2 separate regions of the Homo sapiens genome follow, and region 1 is linked to region 2. The links come from fine-mapping of genetic effects on gene expression. Tissue or cell type: whole blood. Region 2 holds a variant in brackets; the other region holds the start of a gene. All regions are shown on one strand. Distances are from middle to middle.

Region 1 (8,157 bases), 23 kb after region 2:
GGAAAAGTCACAGTTTCTCAAAAGGTTAAATAGTCACCTTTTGACCCAGCAATTCCACTGCCAATAGAAATAAAAACATACATCCATGCAGGCGGGGCGCGGTGGCTCATGCCTGTAATCCCAGCACTTTGGGAGGCCAAAGCGGGCGGATCATGAGGTCAAGAAATCGAGACCATCCTGGCCAACATGGCGAAACCCCATCTCTACTAAAAATACAAAAATTAGCTAGGCGTGGTAGCGCATGCCTGTAGCCCCAGCTAGTCGGGAGGCTGAGGCAGGAGAGTCGCTCAAACCTGGGAGCCGAGATCACGCCACTGCACTCCAGCCTGGGTGACAGAGCAAGACTCTGTCTCAAAAAAAGAAAAAAAAAGAAAAGAAGTATATCTTGGGTAAAGGAATATTATCCAGCCATAAAAAGAATAAAGTAGCTGGCTGGGCGCCGATGGCTCACACCTGTAATCCCAGTACTTTGGGAGGCCAAGGCAGGAGGATCACTTGAACCCAGGAGGTTGAGGCTGCAGTGAGCCATGATCGAACCACTGCACTCCAGCCTGGGTAACAGAGCAAGGCCGTGTCTCGGGAAAAAAAAAAAAAAAAAGAAGTATTGATACATGCCACAACATAGGTGAACCTTGAAAACATGCTAAATGAAAGAAGGAAGGCAGTCACAATAATATTTTATGGTTTCATTTGTGCAAAATACCCAGATTAGGCAAATCCACAGATATAGCAGAGTAGTGGCTGCCAAAGACTGGGGTGGGAAGGATTGGGAGGAAATAGGGAATGACTGCTAATGAGTACCAGGGTTTCTTTTTGGGTGATGAAAATATTCTTAAAATGATAGTGTTGATGGTTGCACAACTCTGTCAACGTACTAAACACCACTGAATTGTATATTTTCAATGGGTGAACTATATGTTAGGTAAATCATATCCCACTAATGCTTTTTTTTTTTGAGAGGGAGTTATGCTCTTTTGCCCAGGCTGGAGTGAAGTGGCATGATCTCAGCTCACTGCAACCTCTGTCCCTAGGGTTCAAGCAATTCTCCTGCCTCAGCCTCCTGAGTAGCTGGGATTATAGGTGCCAGCCACCATGACCAGCCAATTTTTGTATTTTTAGTAGAGATGAGGTTTTACCATGTTGGCCAGGCTGGTTTCGAACTCCTGACCTCAGATGATCCACCTGCCTTCACCTCCCAAAGTGCAAGGATTACAGGCATGAGCCACTGTGCCTGCCCAATGGGGATTTTTAAAACAGGTAGCTGGCAGGATTTGAGTTTGGTCTGTAGAACATAATTAGCTGATCCCTGGCATGAGGAAACAAGTAAAATGAGGCCGGGCTCAATGGCTCACACCTGTAATCTAAGCACAGCACTTTGGGAGGCCAAGGCAGGAGGATCGCTTAAGCCCAGGAGTTTGAGACCAGCCTGGGCAACATAGTGACACCTTGTCTCTATCTATTTTTTCTTTTTTTTTTTTGAGACAGAGTCTCACTCTGTCGCCCAGGCTAGAGTGCAGTGGCGTGATCTCGGCTCACTGCAAGCTCTGCCTCCCGGGTTCACGCAATTCTCCTGCCTCAGCCTCCTGAGTAGCTGGGACTACAGGTGCCTGCCATCATGCCCGGCTAAGGGGTTTCACCGTGTTAGCCAGGATGGTCTTGATCTCCTGATCTCATGATCCGCCCGCCTTGGCCTCCCAAAGTGCTGGGATTACAGGCATGAGCCACTGTGTCTGGCCTATTTTTAAATACTTAAAAAAAAAAAGAAAGAAAACAGAAGCAGGTAAAATGAGACCACAAAAAAGCAAACGGGACAAATTCAGATGGTGGGATGATCAACTGAACTAGAATTAGTTTCTTCAATGAATCGATTACACCAAGAAATAACCAAAGTGGAGTGGAAGGGGGAACAGTTCTAAATTAAGAGAGATGTAAAAGACGATAGCAATTACTTAACTATATCCTGATTCCAACAAACCCACAGTTACACTGGACTTGACTCTGCACCACGTAATGGATAGTAGTCTAGAATTACGGTTGTTCTTTTAAAGTGTGATGATGGTATTGTGGTCATATCAGCAATGTTTCTGGTTTTTACACACGCACCCTGTTAGATAAAATTTATAGAAGGTCATTGGTTTGGATTGAGCTCCTGCACTAGGTTCAACAGACCAAACCAAAATGGAGACACTCATGCTAAAGTTCCATGCTTCCAAGCCAAAACTAAGTTGATATCTGATCTTCTGAGATATCAGGAGAGAGATAATAGCCAAATCCCCAAACAACCCAGTTTTAGCCCACCTGATAAAGGAAGTCCCCTCTACTTTAACCTTTAACTTAGAAATTTAATCAAGTTAATCAATTTAATCAACTAGCTTTTTGTTTTCCGTTTCTGATTTTCTCAGCCCTTTGTCTCTGAAAACAACCTCTGCTCAGCTCATCGGAACACTCACGCTATTTTCCATAATTAGATGTTGTTTGATTGTAGATTCACGAATAAATGCCAATTAAGATCTTCTCACTAAATGTGTTGCAATTTTGTCTTTTGACAATCCTTAAGTGTCATGATGCCTACGATTTGTTTTAATCTCTTTAAGTTTAAAAAAATACAGCAAGTATGGCAAAAATAATCATTGGTGATTTGGGTGACAGGAATTCCTGTATTCTTCTCTCACTTTTATATAAGTTTGAACATTTTCGTAAGAAAACATTAACATCAAACTGCCTCAAGGACCGTTCAAGCCCCAAGTTCACAGAATTAGCAGCACAATCAGAATGGGAATCCATGACTGCCTGACCCCGAAGCTCCACACAAGAAAACGTGAATCCCTGCACCAACCCCGAAAGGGAAGGGGCTGTCAAAAAGGTGAAGAGAAGGTGGCGATGGATGACTGCACAATCTAGTATCGCCCGCCGTCCCACCACAGTCTGAGAAACTGAGGCCAGGAAAGGAGTTCTCCCTCCTCAACTCCCACTCCTTAGACCCCCAGCAATCCCAGTCCACTCCTTCCCTTGGGACCACCAGCAAATAGCCATCATCTACAGCAGAACTGTAACTCTCAGGAGAACTGGCCGATGCTAGCTACCACTTGACTGAGTTTATAGTGAGAGAGAGAGACAAAGAGAGAGAGAACTGCCCGATGGACGGTTGGCCACCTCCAGCAGAGTGTAGTTCAGCTTCAAACTTGGGGCGCCCGGACAGCTGTATTAATAATGATTGACAGGGAATCGGGAATCCAAAATCTTGCCCCAGTCTCCCTCAAGACCCCAGGCCTCTAGCCCGCAGGAAAGCGATCCCAGCAACACTCTTCCTGCACCGCCTCGAACTCACCTCACTAACGACTCCCAGTCCCTCGGTCGCTTCTTCAACTGTGCCCCGACACCGGAAAGGAGCACTATTTTCCCCCTCCGCTCCGCCCACTTCCGCCCAGCAGAAGGCACCGGAAGTAGAGCTGCCCCTAGTTGCGGAAGTGCCTCGCCTGGCTTGCTCAAGTCCTCTCTTCTCTTTCTCTCTCCGGAAACGTGAGTAGCTAATCGAAAGTTCCGGATATTGAAACTGGTGGGAATATGGGGAACGCTTACTATGTACGAGGCATTTCCCAGGGAGATCGTTTTTTCCTGCTTGGTTCCCAGGTTTTGAGTCTCTCCAAGCCCAAATTTAAGGACTAATCACTTCCCCTAGAGATCGGGAAGCCCACTTTCCCAAATATATCATCCACTTTTCTTGCTGCATCTTAAAACAATTGAGAAGAGACAACTACGCTCCCATTTTACAGACAGAGCCATTGGGAAATTGAAAATCAAAGCCGTTCAAGTCGCTCTCAGGAAACAGGGATTTACTGCGGCACTGCCCAGCTGTCCCAGGGACTAAGGCATATCGTTCCCGCTAGTTTCTAGATACCTAGAGACCTAGATATTAATTTTTCTAGCTCGGACAGACGAACTCCCAGGGGAGAGCCAGAGCGGGTAGGGGTCGGGAGGGAGGAGGAGGGTCGAATCTAATCCCCCAGGTATCCCATGGTATTCGACACCTTGGCTTCCTCATGGAGCTCTGGCCTTTAAGTCCTTTATCCCAAGGTCCCTTTAAATACTTTGTCCCTTACCTGAGTCCCGCCCAGGGCAGGTAATGGCAAGTTCCGCCCACCTGCCAGAAACGGGGATCAGGCCTGGTTACCGGGAGTGGGGCGCCCCTCCTCCTTATCCCCTCCCCTCTTCCCTGTCCCCTTTCACAGCTGGCTGTAGCTGGCCAAGGAGTTCTCGATTAAAGAGGAAGGGGCAGTGCTCACATTTCTGGGCAGGTAAGTGAATGTCCCTGGAGGAAGAGCCTGGCTTGGGGACCCAGGCATCCTGGCTCCCCGCCCCTCCGAGACCCAGAAGTTTGGGGCTCCTAGGCCCAGGAGTCCAGGGCCCCTGCCCACTTAGGTCCCTAGACCCAATAATATAACTAATCCCCTGCCTCTGCCTCTCTCGTAATCTTTGTTGTCTGTGGGTGGATGTGACAATGAGCACAGAAAGAGGCACAAGTGGAAATTACCAGGAAGGGAAGACTCCAGATCACCAGTGGACATGTTTATAAGCATCTGTGTCAGGTGCTGTAGACACAGTGGGGAAAGAAAGATAAGCTGCCTGCTCCTTGCTTTCTTCTCTGGCGGACACTGCCTTCACTGAAATCCTGGCTCTCACACTTGCACACTGTGTGACCTTCGGCAAGCTATATTACCTCTCTGTGCCTCAGTTTCCTGTTCTCTATACTGGGGATAATAATAGGACTCCTGGTCGGGCGCAGTGGCTCACACCTGTAATCCCAGCACTTTGGGAGGCCGAGGCGGGTGGATCACTTGAGGTCAGGAGTTTGAGACCAGCCTGGCCAACATGGTGAAACCCCATCTCTACTAAAAATACAAAAAATTAGCCAGGCGTGGTGGTGCGCACCTGTAATCTCAACTACCCGGGAGGCTGAGTCAGGAGAATCGCTTGAACCCAGGAGGCAGAGGTCACAGTGAGCTGAGATAGCGCCACTGCACTCCAGCCTGGGTGACAGAGCGAGACTCTGTCTAAAAAAAAAAAAAAAAAAAAACTCCTGTGAAAAGTTTTGTTTTGTTTTGTTTTTGACATGGAATCTCGCTCTGTCACCCAGGCTGGAGTGCAGTGGCACAGTCTCGGCTCACTGCAACCTCTGTCTCCCCTTTCAAGTGATTATTCTGGCTCAGCCTCCCAAGTAGTTGGGATTACAGGCGCCCACAACCACGCCTGGCTAATTTTTGTATGACTCCTGTGAAAAGTAAAATGAGTTGAGGCCGGGCACAGTGGCTCACGCCTGTAATCCCAGCACCAGCACTTTGGGAGGCTGAGGCAGGCAGATCACTTGAGGTCAGGAATTCAAGACCAGCCTGGCCAACATGGTGAAACCCCATCTCTACTAAAAATATGAAAATTCACTTTGGGAGGCTGAGGCGGGCAGATCACGAGGTCAGGAGATCGAGACCATCCTGACTAACACAGTGAAACCCCATCTCTACTAAAAATACAAAAAAATTAGCCGGGCATGGTGGCCGGCACCTGTAGTCCCAGCTACTCGGGAGGCTGAGGCAGGAGAATGGCATGAACCTGGGGGGTGGAGTGTGCAGTGAGCGGAGATCACACCAATGCACTCTAGCCTGGGTGACAGAGCGAGACTCTGTCTCAAAAAAAAAAGAAAATTAGCGGGTGTGGTGGCGCATGCCTGTAATCCCAGCTACTTGGTAGGCTGAGGCACGAGAATCGCTTGAACCCAGGACACAGAGGTTGCAGTGAGCTGAGACTGTGCCACTGCACTCCAGCCTGGCTGACAGAGCGAGACTCCATGTCAAAAAAAAAAAAAAGTAAAATGAGTTTATATAGGTAAACAGTATCTGGCACAGAATACAGGCTGTGTAAGTGGCTGCTATTATTGCCATTCGTGGACCACAGAGGCCAGTCAGAGAGGCACTGCCTCATTACCCAGGGACTAAGGCCCTTGTCAGCTGTAACAAACCTGGTTCTAGGTGTCTGGAAAATATGAGGGGCCACCCCTCTCTGCTGCTGCTATATATGGCATTAACCACCTGCCTGGATACTTCACCCAGTGAGGAGACAGACCAAGGTGAGTGTTTGGGGGAAGTGGCATCCAGACACTTGGCGTTGGCCTCCCCCTGACTCAGGAATGTTTCTAGTCCTTCCTCTTCCAGGAGTCCAGGACCCAGCCCCTTCCTCCTTCAGACCCAGGAATCTGGATTCCCAGCCCCTGCTCCTTCCTCCAGGACCCCACTGCTTTCCATCCCCCTATGACTCCAGCCCTAGGGACCCTCCATTTTTCTGTCCCTCATGTCTTTGGGTCCAGAAGTCTTCCTGGGTCCCCCAGAGGCCCAGAGCTTCCTGAGTAGCCATACCCGGATTCCAAGAGCCAACCACTGGGACCTGGAGCTGCTCACACCAGGGAACCTGGAACGGGAGTGTCTGGAAGAGAGGTGTTCCTGGGAAGAGGCCAGGGAGTATTTTGAGGACAACACTCTCACGGTGAGGGCCTCGAGACCCTGGAGTTTCGGGCCCTCTCTCTTCTCTATACCTGTGGGGAGGTTGCAGGGGTAGGTTCTGGCCTTCAGCTCCCTCCTCCTTGGTGTCTCAGAAATCAGGATGGGCTAGTTTGGGGGTGTGAACCTCCCAGCTGAATTCCTGCTTTTTCCCCTTCTTTTCCACTCCTTCCCCCTCAAGGAGCGCTTTTGGGAGAGCTACATCTACAATGGCAAAGGAGGTGAGTGAGGGGCTGAAGCCATCTTGTTCTGTGCAGCTAAGGTAGTCCCTTCCCAGCGAGGCCAAACCAACGTCCTCCACCCCAAATTAGGTACAAGAATCGTCTGCCCCCCAATTCTGTGCTCTCTGAAGCTGGCTGCTAAAGGAGTTCCCTCCCTTAAGACCCCAGCTTGCCTGAGGAGCCCCCCACACCTTATTTTATTTTTAAATATTTATTTTTGCTTTTTTTTTTTTTTTGAGACAGAGTCTCGCTCTGTTGCCCAGGCCGGAGTGCAATGGTGCGATCTCGGCTCACTGCAAGCTCCGCCTCCCGGGTTCACGCCATTCTCCTGCCTCAGCCTCCCGAGTAGCTGGGACTACAGGCACCCACCACCACACCCGGCTAATTTTTTGTATTTTTAGTAGAGACGGGGTTTCACCGTGTTAGCCAGGATGGTGTTGATCTCCTGGCATCGTGATCTGCCCGCCTCGGCCTCCCAAAGTGCTGGGATTACAGGCGTGAGCCACCGCGCCAGGCCTTTAATTATTTATTTTTGAGACAGGGTCTCGCTGTGTCACCCAGGCTGGAGTGCTGTGGTACAATCTTGGCTCACTGCAGCCTCAACCTCCCGGGCTCAAGCGATCTTCCCACCTCAGCCTCCTGAGTAATTGGGACTCCAGGCACACATTACCATGGTAATTTTTGTAGTTTTTGTACAGACGGGGTCTCACTATGTGGCCCAGGCTGGTCTTGAATGCCTGGCCTCAAGCAATCCTTCTGCTTCAGTGTCCCAGACTGCTGAGATTATAGGTGCCAGGCCCCCCACCACATCTTATTGGACGCAAGTCCTGTGTCCCTAGGAAGGGAAAAGTGTCAGTGGAGGGAAAGGTTAGAGCTGTGGGGCCCGTCAGGCCTTAGGCTCAGAGGGGCAGGCCCACCTGAACCCTTCCCTGGTGTCCAGAGTAAGTGGAAAGACCAGCCCCTCCGGCAGCTTGATTGCTGGGGACACAGCCCTCTAGCAACACGACCAAGGGAGGAAGCCTGCCCATCCTCACCTGCCCATTTTGCCCCCAAGAACCCCTTCTCTGAGGGGTTGCCATCTTGTTCCCATCTTGTTGCCAGCCTTGTTGCTAAGGGGGGCTGCTCCTTAGCAACGGGGCCTGGCCAGGCCAGACCAGACGAAGAAGCCTGAAGCAGTACCTGGCTGATTTCCCCTCCCCCACAGCCCCATCCCAGCAGCTGCCTGGTTGCTAAGGAGGCCTTCTCCCTAGCAACCACACCTAGCCAGGCTCCAGGACCCAAGGCCTTCTGCCCACTGGAGGACCACCCTCCGGGCCTCCGATGCCCCACCCCCTTGTGGCCCGGTTGCTAGGGGTAGCTGCACCTTAGCAACAGGCCTAGGTCTGGGCTGG
Region 2 (8,179 bases):
ATTGCTCTGCGAGGCAGGAATGCTGTGTTTTTTGTTGTTGGTGTTGTTATTGTTGTTTTTTGAGACAGAGTCTCACTTTGTCGCCCAGGCTGGAGTGCAGTGGCACGATCTCAGCTCACTGCAACCTCCGCCTCCCGGGTTCAAGCAATTCTCCCGCCTCAGCCTCCCGAGTAGCTAGGATTACAGGCGCCGGCCACCACACCCGGCTCATTTTTGTATTTTTAGTAGAGATGGGGGTTTCACCATGTTGGCCAGGCTGGTCTTGAACTCCTGACCTCGTGATCCACCCGCCTCGGCCTCCCAAAGTGCTGGGATTACAGGCGTGAGCCACCGCACCCGGCTATCTAGGCTGGTCTTGAACTCCTGACCTCAAGTGATCCACCCGCCTCAGATTCCCAAAGTGCTGGGATTACAGGCGTGAGCCACCGCACCCGGCCTGTCTTGTTTTAATCTTTGCTTGTCTCCGTGCTGTTTTTCACACTGCCCAGCAGCTGCTTTTGTGACTCAATGGTTATTAAACACAAGGCCTTAAGGACAGCCCCTACATTCCCAGTCAAGTCTGACGCCACCGGGCTGGTTCCTGGTCCCCGCTCTGCCCTGGCTCCCTCACTCTCCCCTGTACGCCCTCTGCTCCTTAAATCTGCAAAGTGCGTTGCTGCCTCTGGGCCTTTGCACTCGCGGTTTCCTCTTCCTTTCCCCCTCAGGCTGCCACAGGTGGGGGCGTGATGCTCCTGACCGCCTTTCCTAGTCCGGGTGCTGCGCACTTTTTCACAGAACTGCACTTCCTTTGTGGGTCTAATCACACTGCAGCCCGGAAGACACGTTCCTGGGCATTTCCTGTTCTTCAAACCTGGCAAAAATCCGGGAACCCTAACAAAGAACTCGAGAAATTTCTATGTAGCTCATTAAAGTGGCGCACTCACACGGTCTTGGCTTAGACTTGGACTTCCGGCCACTCAACCAATTTTAATGCTGTGCATTTGCGTTCTATTCAGGTTTTTTTTTTTTTTTCTTCTTTGAGATGGAGTCTCGCTCTGTTGCCCAGGCTGAAGTGCAATGGTGCGATCTTGGCTCACTGCAACCTCCGCCTCCTGGGTTCAAGCGATTCTCCTGCCTCAGCCTCTGGAGTAGCTGGGAATACAAGTGCGCACCACCATGCCCGGCTAATTTTTGTATTTTTAGTAGAGACAAGGTTTCACCATGTTGGCCAGGCTGGTCTCGAACTCCTGACCTCAAGTGATACGCTAGCCTCGGCCTCCGAAAGTGCTGGGATTACAGGCGTGAGCCACCGTGCCTGGCCAGATTTTGTTCTTAATGTGAGACCACATTCAATATGCTTAGCCCGCTCTTTCAAACTCCAGCGTGCGCTGTAGGAGCACTGTTTGCACGGCCCTGCATCCTCGCCTGCCCTGTCCCCGGGGCGCCCACGCCGCGAATGAAGGCGCCACGTCGTTGCGCACCCAAGCCGGTTTATTTGGTCTCCCGCACACACTCAGGCCTGCATCACCGGCCGTGATTTCTCCGCTTGCAGCTTCACTCCGGAGCCCGCGAAGCCGGTACCGCCCTGGGGGAGGTAGAGAGAAGGACGAGGTAGAGGCCGGCCCGGGGGTGACCAGTGGGGCTCCAGGTGGTAGTGGGGATTCCTAAGCGGGTCAAGGTGAAGCGGGTTGCTGGCTAAGGAGTAGGAGTTGGGGAGGGGGCGAGGCGACCGCAGTGGGTACGGATGGACAGGGCGCAGGGCGCAGAGAAGAGGGTAGAGAGTGGCAGGGGAGGAGCCTTGGGAGGGAGCGTGTGGAGGGGGTGGAGCCGTGGAGGGCTGGAGGCAGGGAAGGGGCGGGGCCTTGAAAAGGAAGGAGGAGGCGGGGCCTAGGAGAGCGGAGGGGGGGAAGGGCGGGGCCTTGCAGGAGAAAGCGGGGGGGGGGGGCGGCCTTACAGAGCAGAGAAGAAGGCGGGGCCTTGGAGAGTTGGGGGAAGGGGAGGGGACGAAGCCTTGGAGGGGGTGAAGGGGAGGGGCGGGGCCTTGGAGTGCTGGGGGAAGGGGAGGGGTGGGACTCTTACCCGCTGCAGCACGATGATGTCGCGGTCTGTGAGTTTGTCTCCAGTCACAGGGTCCACCATGTCCTTCCGAATCAGCTTCTCCACGCATTCGAGGGTGACCACAGCCCCACTACGGTGAGGCCGAAGGCGGGAGACTCTGATCAGGGGCCTTCCTGGGGACCTACTGGCCCCAAAGCCGGACCGCCCCGCAGGTTCCCGAGTGGTCCCTTCCCTCCCCTCCCAGGTGACTCACGAGGGCCGCAGCACAGCGCAGGGGGTGGCGTTGCTCAGGCTGTCGCGGGTCACGGCACACACGTAGCGCTCGCTGCGGGTGATGAGCCCCACGCGGTCCACGGAGCTGTCTAGCGGTGTGAAGTGCACGGGCGTCAGGTCCGACATGCGCAGGGGCTTCCCTGACATGGGGCAGGTCACCGTGCGGGACTGCAAGGGGCAGAGAGAGGCGGGCTCAGTAGGCAGGGCTGGCGCAGGTGGAGAGCGCGTGGTCCCTGTGCGTGAGGAGGACGGTGGGGAACCCTGGCGCCCTGGCACCGTGCGTGCCGGGGCGCTGTGGGGGCTCACCGGCTTCTCCAGCTTGGTGGCCTTGGCTTCGGGCGTCAGCGACGGGATCCAGAAGCTGGGCAGCACTTTGTCCTTGTCCTTACTTGGAGGACCCACACTGGGCCCAGGTTGGACATCATCTGTGGGGGAAGGAAGGGACTCAGATGCCGCCCCCTGGGCCCGCCCAGCCCGCGGCGCCCCGCCCCCCAACCCACAAGAAGCCCAACCTGAGTCACCTGGGCTGGTGCCCGAGAGGGCCTTGGCTGTGAAAGGGTTGAGGGGCCGGCTCACGATAGCCGACTCCTTCTCCAGGAAGCCCCGCACATGGTCCTGCGAGGCCGCCCGCTGAAGCTCCTTCTGCTCCTCGCGCCGGGTGCCCCGCTGCTTCTCGTAGGCCTGCGTCGGGGAAAGTGGGCTGAGCATCTGCCCGTGGGGCTGGGGGTATCTTCCTCCCATTTCACAGGTAGGTAAACTGAGGCCCACAAAGGGGACCCTCTGATGGAGGCACTATGTGGCAGAGGGTGGTAACTGCCACCCTGGGTGGGTGTGAACCTTACTGCGTTGTATAGCCAGACTGCCAGGGCTCAAAGCCCATCTCTGTCACTCTGTGGCCTAAGTGAGCACTATGACCTCTCCTGGCCTCAGTTTCTTCATCTGTAAAACAGCCTAACAGTGGTTACCCACCTCAGCGGCTCACTGAAGGGTTACATAAGGTGAGTGTTTACAGCATGGAGAGCCTCACCTGGCACTCAGCTAAGCATTTAATTAATGTCACCTGCTGGCCAATTAAGTTTTCTATACAGTGCATGCCCCAGCCCGTGTTTGGGACGGGGGATGTAGACTTCAGATCTAAGGGAATGCTGAGGAGCCCATGTCTATGGACGGACAGTGAGTGAGGACGGGAGAAGTGAAGCCATGACCTGAGCTCAGCCCTGCCTGGCGCACAGCAGTTGCCTGGGCGGTGCTGCAGTTCCAGACCACCCTGGGCCACCCAGCTGAGTGAGGAGGTAACAGTGACAGTGATGGATGCTCATGAGGGCCTCCGACATGACCACCAGGCTGTGTGGAGGACATGGGCACAGGGGGAGCCACCTGCTTGGGACAAAAAGCCCAATAAGCATGTGACCTGTAGTGTTTCCTGAGCGCCAGCAACCAGGCAGGGGAAGAGGGGGACAGACCCACTGTGCCTCAAACAGGGCCCCTCCTACCCATCAAATGGCTTTGTCCATGGAAGGCCAGGCCGGGTTCCCAGTAACACGCCTTGAGAATGCTCATCTGCGTGTACCTCCCAGGTGCCCTGCTGTGTCCTCTGATTTGGCCGTCAGCCCGTTTTACAGACGATGAAACTGAGGCCCAGAAAAAATGAGGTGATGTCAATTCACGTAGCACATCTTTTTTTTTTTTTTTTTTTTTGAAACAGAATCTCGCTCGGTTACCCAGGCTGAAGTGCAGCGGTGCCATCTCAGCTCACTGCGACCTCTACCTCATGGGTTCAAGCGATTCTCCTGCCTCAGCTTCCTGAGTAGCTGGGATTACAGGCGCCCGCCATGCCCGGCTCAATTTTTTTTTTTATTTTTTTATTTTTAGTACAGACAGGGTTTCACCATGTTGGCCAGGCTGGCCTCTAACTGTTGACCTCAAGTGATCCGCCTGCCTCGGCCTCCCAAAGTCCTGGGATTACAGGTGTGAGCCACCACCCCCGACCCATTTAGCATATCTTTACTAAGGACCTAAGCTACAGGGTGGGAAAACTCGAAGTCCATAAGGGAAAGTGGGCATGTGTCAGACAGCCACATGTACAGCTACAACTATGCTAAGTGCTAAGAGAAGAGGTGACTGGGGCAGATCCTGGGGACTGGCAGGAGCTCAGAGGAGGCAGCATCTGGGCTGAAATCGGTGAGAAGGATTTGGCCGGAAGCAGGGGAGGGGAATGGTGTACCAGGCAGAGGGAACTGAGATCAGAGGGCTCTGAGTGGCTCTGCCTGTGAGCTCAGACTCAAAAGCTCCTGCCTCCGTGTGCCGCCTCCTCCCCATCCCCATCACCTTCATCTGCCGGGCAATCTCCTTCTTCTGGTGCAGAATGTACTCCAGGATGGCCTCACGCTCATACAGGTAGCCATCTGGGCTGCAAAGACAGGGTGCAATGAGAAAGAAAGAAAGTGATCCTCCCGCCTCGGCCTCCCGAAGTGCTGGGATTATAGGCAGAAGTCATCATGATCAGTCCCAAGTTCAATTATTTGCTAGAATTCACAGAACTCAGCAAAGCTGTTATACTCATGGTGATAGTTTACTGCAGTGAAAGGATGCAGATTAAAATCAGCAAAGGAAAAAGGCACATGGGGCAGAATCTAGTAGAGACTAGATTTGAG[C/T]TTCCAGCTGTCCTCTCCCAATAGAGCTGCAGGGAAAGTGCTTCATTCTCTCAGCAACAATGTGTGCCACATATTGTTGCAGCCACGAGTTCGAGACCAGCCTGGGCAACAAAGTGAGCTCCCCTCTCTACAAAAAACAAACAAAAACGCCAGGTGTGGTAGTGCACACCCGTGGTTCCAGCTACTCGTGGGGGCTGAGGCAGGAGGATCACCTGAGCCTGGGATATCAGTGAGCCAAGATGTCCCCATTGCACTCCAGCCTGGGCAACAAAGTGAAGACTCTGTCTCAAAAAAAAAAAAGAAACCTGAAGGTGGCCTTGGGGGCCCTGATCATTAATTACTGTCTTCTACAAAATATACCACTAATTGAGCACGTATTTAGTGCCTGGACTCAGCACCTGTTAAGCCTTTGCCCTACCATCAGAGGTAGGTCATGGGAAGTGTCCAAAGGTGAGCTGCTCCGATGGCCTCGGCAATGCTCTGAGAGCCCTACACCCCATTAGAAGTATGTTCCTTTCCATATGTTCCACACTATGAAACAGATGCTAGGATCATGCCCATGTCCCATGTGAGAATACAGAGGCTCTGAGGATAAACTGCTCATCCAGGGTTCCCTGGCTGTGCAGGTGGCCAGACCCACGCACACAGCCTCCTCCTGGCGGTTCCCTTGCTCTCCCCACCCAGACCTACCCATCCCTGTTCCCAGCTCACGTGACAACAGGATCGTGGCAAGGCTGCAGGGAGAGACAACAGCAGTCGAAGTCCTTCACGGCATCCCGGCTCAGTCGAATGTTCTGGGTCCCATAGCCCGAGGCCGCTGGGGACAGAGATGGGCAGAGTGATGGAGGGGCGGAGCAACAGGAGACATGTCCGTCTCCAAAGCCCCAGAGAGAGGCACAGAGACAACGCGGTGGTGGGGGTGGGGGACTCAGAGAGAAACAGGCAGTTGGGAGCCGCTGCCTGTGTGCTGGGGCCACGGGCTGAACCCACAGGGAGTTGTCAACCCTGGAGGGTGAGAGGCAGACAGGCCTGGTCACTGAGTGGCAGCTTGGTGGAGGGGCTGACGGCTGACTCCCCTCCACCCTTCTGACTGTGACCAAGCTCAAGTGCCTGTCCCTCTTTGGGCCTCAGTTTCTTCCTCTGGAACATGGGGTAACAAGAGCACCCTCCCTGACACTCTGTTGGGAGGAGTGAGTTCATGCGCAGAAGGCAGAGAACACAGTGCCGGGCCACATGGGGTCATGGGATCACCCAGCTGTTGTTTACATGGTCATGGCCATCAGTGTATATCGGGGGCGGGAGAGAGACAGGGACAGAGGAAGCAAAACCTGGGGCACGAGGGGAGAGGGTGACTCCAAGACACAGCCATGTCCCGCCTCTTCCCACCCCAGCCCTGCACCTGTGTCCTTCTTCTTCTCGTGGTAGGTGTAGACGGCCCCTGCGGTGCAGTTCTTGCCATGCCGCGTCATCCTAGGGAGGAAGGGACAGTGGCAGGACTGTGGTTACCGGAGGCAGGCAGCACAGGGAAGACCTCTGCAGCCCTCAGAGCTGATCTGCCCCCCTTGATGGGAAAGCGGAGGCGGAGAAGGGGGGTGAGGTGGAAGAGAGGGAGGGCATGTGGTCGCCAGGCCTCCTCCAGGAAGTCCTCCTTCCAGACTCACCTAGACTCATTTATATGTGAAAATAGCACCTTTAACAACAAAACTCTTTGTTTGGAGGTAAGAGGGTGAGAGACCAGAGTTCAAATTCTAGCCACTACTTCAGATTAGCTAGGGTGGTGGCTGTGCCATTTAATGGAGGGGAAAAAAAAAGACACCAAGGGGGCCACTATTGTTGATGAATCCACTCCACCTTCCCTTCCCCTCTCATATCTGTAAGCTCTGACTGAGGCCAAGGCGTGGACCAGCCCAGTGATTGGCTCAAGGCTGGGCACTTAGCTAAGGCTTGACACTTAGCTAAGGCTTGACCCAATCGCTGCCTGCCAGTCCACTAGCGACTGGATCTAGCAGCTGTGATTATGTCTCAGATCGACCGATCAGAGGGCAGGTCAGAGTAGGGCTCTGTGTCTAGGGGAAGAGCTACCTCCACTCCCACTGCAGGTAAAGGAGGAAGAGAAGACCCCAGAACCCTGGAGCTCAATTCAAAAAGCAAAGCTTTTTTTATTCTGTAAGTTTTCAAACACATACAAAACCAGAATAGTATAAGGAACCCCCATGATGTACCCATGTCCTGCGGTCCAGCAGCTGTCAACATTTTGCCACCTTACTTTGATACCTTTGATCATTCCCCATACTTAAGGGCAACCCCCACCCTTTTAAATGACTTTATTGAGACACAATTCACATACCATAAAATTAACCCTTTTAAAGTGGTTTCAGACCAGGTGTAGTGGCTCACGCCTGTAATCTCAGCACTTTGGGAGGCTGAGTCAGGTGGATCACTTGAGTTCAGGAGTTCAAGATCAGCCTGGCCAACATGGTGAAACCCCGTCTCTACTAAAAATACAAAAATTAGCTGGGCGTGGTGGCACACGCCAGTAATCCCAACTACTCGGGAGGCTGAGGCACTGAGAATCACTTGAGCCCAGGAGGCAGGGGTTGCAGTGAGCCGACATCATGCCACTGCACTCCAACCTAGACAGAGCAAGGCTCTGTCACAATTAAAAAAAAAAAAAAAAAGACATTGCCTAAGCCAAGATAATGCACATTTATTCCTATGTTTTCTTCTAGGGGTTTGATCATTTTAACTTTTACTTTTTGAGTTAATTTTTGTGTATGGTGTGAGGAAGGGAGCCCCCTACTTTTCTGGAGTTCATTTGTAAAAGGAGAAGCCCTGAACCCACAGAGGCTGGGCAGCTTTCACCAAGACTGCTTGGCCAGTAAACAGCCTGCATGCCTGTTTGTTTGTTTGTTTTTTGAGACGGAGTTTCACTCTTGTTGCCCAGACTGGAATGCAATAGCATGATCTTGGCTCACTGAAACCTCTGCCTCCCAAGTTAAAGCGATTCTCCTGCCTCAGCTTCCCAAATAGCAGGGATTACAGGTGCCTGCCACCACGCCTGGCTAATTTTTTTGTATTTTTAGTAGAGACGGGGTTTCACCGTGTTGGCCAGGCTGGTCTTGAGCTCCTGACCTCAGGTGATCCACCTGCCTCAGCCTCCCAAAGTGCTGGGATTACAGGCGTGAGTCACTGTGCCTGGCCCCTGCAGGCTTTTT

Evidence for each region. PIP is the estimated chance that this variant, and not a neighbour inherited with it, causes the effect.
Region 1: it holds the start of NOSIP, and the variant in region 2 is fine-mapped to the expression of NOSIP in whole blood (TOPMed, PIP 0.98).

The regions. Positions count from the first base shown.
Region 1 is chr19:49,577,187-49,585,343 of GRCh38, forward strand. It overlaps NOSIP (nitric oxide synthase interacting protein), which reads right to left and starts at 3,370. Exons shown (of 9, transcript NM_001270960.2): 1 at 3,329-3,370. PRRG2 (proline rich and Gla domain 2) reads left to right here and starts at 4,130. Exons shown (of 7, transcript NM_000951.3): 1 at 4,130-4,295; 2 at 6,021-6,118; 3 at 6,356-6,531; 4 at 6,727-6,766. The coding sequence starts at 6,034. RefSeq lists an enhancer at 7,422-8,047.
Region 2 is chr19:49,554,259-49,562,437 of GRCh38, forward strand. NOSIP (nitric oxide synthase interacting protein) reads right to left here. Exons shown (of 9, transcript NM_001270960.2): 2 at 6,364-6,434; 3 at 5,676-5,781; 4 at 4,639-4,720; 5 at 2,832-2,991; 6 at 2,617-2,735; 7 at 2,291-2,478; 8 at 2,059-2,167; 9 at 1,210-1,564. The coding sequence starts at 6,433. The coding sequence ends at 1,493. Among named protein-coding and RNA genes, the nearest start is that of NOSIP, 22 kb to the right of the region's middle. RefSeq lists enhancers at 1,794-2,575, 6,341-6,390. The variant C/T (reference allele first, on the strand shown) is at 4,965.